Regions from separate parts of the Homo sapiens genome. Here region 1 is linked to region 2. The links come from fine-mapping of genetic effects on gene expression. A gene starts in region 2. The other region holds a variant in brackets. All regions are shown on one strand. Distances are between the middles of the regions. Region 1 overlaps SKAP1 (src kinase associated phosphoprotein 1). Region 2 holds the start of SKAP1 (src kinase associated phosphoprotein 1).

Region 1 (2,500 bases), 200 kb before region 2:
TGGGAGGTCGAGGTGGGTGGATCACGAGGTCAGGAGTTCGAGACCAGCCTGGCCAACATGGTGAAACCCCATCTGTACTAAAAACATACAAAAAATTAGCCGGGCATAGTGGCTCGCACCTGTAATCCCAACTACTAGGGAGGCTGAGGCAGAAGAATTGCTTGAACCCAGGAGGCAGAGGTTGCAATGGGCTGAGATTGTGCCATTGTACTCCAGCCTGGGTGACAGAGCAAGACTGTGTCTTGAGAAAAAAAAAATGTTTACTTAGAGTGGCAGAAATACAAGCCAACAGCTTCTCTCTCTGCATCCCCCATGCTTATATGACAAGAGTTCCAAGTTGTTTGAGTGTTTGGTTTTTTTGGCAGTGAAAGGTTTAAGGGCATTTATCTCTATAACTAGCAATTTAATAAGTACATGACTTCTTACTCAAGTGCATTTAGATAATTTTCTAAGCTTTCATAACAGCTTTATTTATTTATGCTTTAATGCCTTTCCTCTTAAGAGCTCAAGATGCTGGTTATTTAACATTTTATATTCAGATATGAGGATTAAAAAAAGGCACTGGGTGCCATGCTGCTGTCTCCAATGATAGCTCCACTAAAAATAACACAATTAACTTGATGTCAGCCCTCAGCTTGTTCTTAAATATAGGTTTCTTAAAAATATCCAGACTACTTTAATTAGAGTCACAGAATATTTTAATTATTCCTAAAAGACTGAGTATACTCCATTGACTACAATAAAGACATGAGATAGAAAGCAGTTCTCTAGGAACTTATATATGCTAATGATTATGTCACATTAATGGGAATATGGGCAGTTGTTTAGGATGAAATTGGTACAGGGCTAGACATGGACACCTGTGAAGAAAACTGAGGCCATGTGTCATCTGGCATGAGGTAAATGGCATCTGAGCCCCAGATATCATCAGAAATGCAAAATTCTGAAATTCAAGGTAATATGTTGTTCAGTTCAACTTAATTTTAATCAGATGCAATCCAACCCTGGAAACCTTTATTCAGCATCTGTTATATGTCAGGTAATGTTCTGAGATCTGTGGGGGTACCAAAATAAATAAGAAATACATTCTATTTTCAAGGCACTTTTTTTTTTCTGGTAGGAAAGACAGTCAAATAAATAACCACAGAATGTGA[T/C]GAGTAAAAAGCAAAATTACAAATGTATGCATTAATACAAAATGAATAAAGGAGATTTATGGTGGCATGATATGGCAGAACAAGGATGAGTTTTGAAATCATGCAGACCCTGGTTTAAATTCTGGATATTTCAATTGCTTGCCATAAAGCTTTTAGCCTTGGTTTTATGTTTTGAGAATGGAGATCTCAATGTATTTTAAAATGCTTTGTGAAGATAAAGCAAGGCAAGATTTGTAAAAGTATCGAACTAGTTCCTAGCATGAGAATCCTAATAGGAGCTCAAGAAATGTTACGTTTTTCCTTGTGTGTATATGTGAAGGCTTCACAGAGGAGACAAAGACTGAGCTGGGTTTTGAAGGATGAATAGGAGTTCTCTAAGACTAATGGAACAATATTTGGAAAAAGAGAGATGTGGAAAAGTGGGGAATATCTGGTATTGTTGATATATAAAAGGGGAATGAGCAGCAAAGGGACCTGAAGATAGGGAGGTGGCAGAGATCTACAAAGAAAGTGAGAAATGAACATAAATGTGTATACTTAGGGAACACCACAGAATGTGTGACCATGGAGCATTCAGCATCACCATGGTTGAAGGTCCATAAAGTAACAAATTGTCCTAACTTGCTAGACAACTATCAAGTTTGAACAGCCTCAAAAGTTAGCTTTCACTTTTTTTTTTTTAGTGAGTTCATCAAAGTTGCTCACAGACTCCATTTAGTAGAAAACTGCAGAACAAGATCAACTACAACAAAACTCTGAATGCAGACACAGTCATTTCATTCTGTGCTAAGGTAACTGATAAGTGGACAATAGAAGAATATCCAAGATGCTGCTGGAAATTGTGTTAAAGTAGGACAAGCATGAGAGAGGTTTAATGCCATGAAATCTTTCAGTAGTGCAGCAAAGCTGAGGATGGCAAAGAATGTTGGTGTTCACCTCCCAACTCCAACTCACAGTGCTGAGAACTTAGCAAGTGTATGATGCTATTCCACTCCCAGAATAACATCACCCAGAGGCAAGTCTTGCTTGTACTTGGACCAGTAATCATAGCTCTTTCTCCTGCTTTACTCATCAGGAGCCTATAGTCAAATATACCAGAGAATACTAGAAGATCTGTCTTTCCTACAAGTCTGGTATGTAGCTCAAGGGACCACACTTGCTTTTCTTTGAGAAATGATCCATTGATTTAAGAGGAAAGCCAGCCCAGGATTTTGGGTGGAGTGGCAGACACAATTTGAAGGATAAAATTCATGAGGAACCATCTGAAAAGATGTTGGGCCTTTTAAAAATAGTTACACTGGATGTGATGATTGTAACATTTCAAAGTCAAGGGAGAAAAATACATT
Region 2 (2,500 bases):
AACCTCACCTCAAAAGAAATATCTAGCTGACAGCTTTTACATAGAAGCAATCCAGAATGGAAATAGTGCTACAGACAGAGACCAAAAGGACTTGCCAAATATTTGATTAGGAGGCATTTATACCGAGATAACAAGGTAATGGAGATATAAAACCAATTAAATTGAGAGAAACTGAAAAAAAATACTGCTTGCCAAAAATATGACCTGCCCAAAGCAGGCCGTCTGTTAAATATGTGTCAACTATGTCAACTTAGATGCCAAAAGGCTTAATTCTGAATAGTTTCCTCCTGGGAGCCTTATGCGACTGCAGATTCCAGGCCTCTGTCCTCCCTGGAAGGTTAGTTACAGGAAAGCAAGTAAAAGTGACTTCCACCACGAAACCCAGCAGATGAAACTGCCCGTTAGCAACGTCTCTTTGTGACATCTCTTTGGAGTGTTGGCAGTGTGTGTTGAGTGTTGACGGGGATGGCCGGAACTCTTTAAACCACCGCTTAGACACTGTAGTTGGAAGGTGAACACACCACAATGGGAGTTGGAAGGTGAACACACCACAATGGGGGCACTTCTAGAAAAGGAGGAAATCCCATACTGAGAATGAGCCTGCCTTGGGGTGGGTGAGACCCCTAGACGTCTGCAGGGTGATAAAGGGAGGGCTGGGGTTTTCGCACTGACAAAAACTCACGTCAACCACCTGGCCTTGGCCCATGGGGATCCCATGAGCCCCTCGCAGCCCCCTGGAGAGCCTCGGGGACCTCTAAGCAGGAAGGTTTGGGGTCTTCTGTGAGAGGTGAGGAAGTCGTGGCTGGGGAAGGAGGGGGACGGGAAACCCTACAGATGTAGGGCAGTCCTTTGGAGAAAGGGACAGGTCGGAGACCAGGCAAGGTGGCATGGGGGACCAAGAACCTGGCCTGAGGACTTTAGAAGCCGGGGAGGTGAAGTGGAGGCGTGGAGGTGCCTCAAGGCAAAAGAAGATGTGGGACTCCAGGGAGTGAAAGGGGCCCTGAGGTGAGAGGATGGAAAGCTGGCTCTAGGGAGTTGAGGGCTCTAGAAGCCTTAAGGTTCTAGAAGGAGGTGAGTGACGAAGCCGTAAAGAAAGCCTGGCCGTGGGAGGCCTGGTGTCCCCTTTCGGCCTTCGGCTCAGCACTGGAGGGGGCCTGCGCCAGGGCGTTACCTTCCAGGAGCCAACGGATCTCCTCAGGGAGGGCGGCGGCCTGCATTTGGCTGGGCGGGAGAGAGGCGGGACGGGGCGCGGGCCCTGGTCGGGAGGCGGACGGGCTGGAAGGCGACCCGGCTGCACCGCGAGGCACCTGTACCTCAGCCGCGGTCGCCGCCCGCCCAGCCCGGCCGCGGGGCGGGGCCGTGGGTCCCCGGGCGCGTCAGGAAGTGGCGCGGGCGGCAGGCGGGGACCGGAACGGGGCGCGGGGCGTGGGTGCACGTGGCGCTCACGCCGGAGCCCCACGGTAGAAGGATTGGGGGTGCCGGAAGCACCGCACCGTGCGAGGCCAAAGGTGCGCCCCTCCAGCACCCACCAAAACAAAAGACTTCACAAGGCTCAAAGGACCCACGGCTTTGGACACTCCATCCTAAGCACCGAACAGTTGACCTCACGGTGGCAGATTTGAAAGACCACGGGGTGCCTGAAGTAGGGTGCAGGGAGGCAGAATCCAAGGAAGAGATCCCCGTCAAGCATAGCACCCCTCAATTGCCGGTCCAGTTCACATCTCCATCCCCAGAAAAGAGGGCAAAACTTCGCTCTTTGGGAAGCCACAATGTTGAAAGGAAATGATTAATTCCCAATAAGCAATATAAGGACACCAACATTTGGGAGAATCGCGGCAGCGTGGCAGCAAGGGACACAGGAAACCAAACTGTGCTGTTCTCCCTCAGGATGGAAAGGCCCTGAGGAAAGGAAGGGGTAACACAGGGAGAAAGCTGAGGGAGAGGAGAACAGAGCCCTTTCCCTCCAGGAGCTGCGGAAGGGAGGAAAGTGAAGGACAAAATCACACGGTCTCATTCAAGGGACAGTTGGTGTCAGTGTCCTGGTTGTGACATGGTACTGTAATAGTGCCAGATGTTACCCTTGGGGGAAACTGGGTAAAGGTAGACAGAGTTCCTCTATTATTTCTGAAACTCTCTGTGAATCTATAATTCTCAAAATAAAGAGGTTTTTTAAGTACAATAGGTCAACTGCCATGAAAAAAGTATAAAGTGCTATGGTTGATAAAAGAAGGGAGCTGAATACCAGAAAAGGAGGGAAGAGGCCAGGCATTGTGGCTCACACCTGTAATCACAGCACTTTGGGAGGCTGAAGCAGGAGGATCACTTGAGCCCAGGAATCTGAGGTTACAGCCAACTATGATCACCCCAGTGTACCCCAGCCTGGGCAACAGAGCAAGACCCTGTCTCTTAAAAAAGAAAGAAAATAAAAAGAAGTGCCAGTGTGCATGTGAGTGTTTAAAGGTGCATGTGGTGTTTGAGATGGGCTCTGAAAAACACACCA

What was found. PIP is the estimated chance that this variant, and not a neighbour inherited with it, causes the effect.
Region 1: its variant is the best candidate, but not a certain one, in a credible set for the expression of SKAP1 in whole blood (INTERVAL, PIP 0.84).

The regions. Positions count from the first base shown.
Region 1 is chr17:48,233,612-48,236,111 of GRCh38, forward strand. All of the region lies in intron 4 of SKAP1 (src kinase associated phosphoprotein 1), which reads right to left. Among named protein-coding and RNA genes, the nearest start is that of SKAP1-AS2, 59 kb to the right of the region's middle. The variant T/C (reference allele first, on the strand shown) is at 1,155.
Region 2 is chr17:48,428,904-48,431,403 of GRCh38, forward strand. It overlaps SKAP1 (src kinase associated phosphoprotein 1), which reads right to left and starts at 1,311. Exons shown (of 13, transcript NM_003726.4): 1 at 1,172-1,311. The coding sequence starts at 1,217. RefSeq lists a silencer at 1,225-1,484.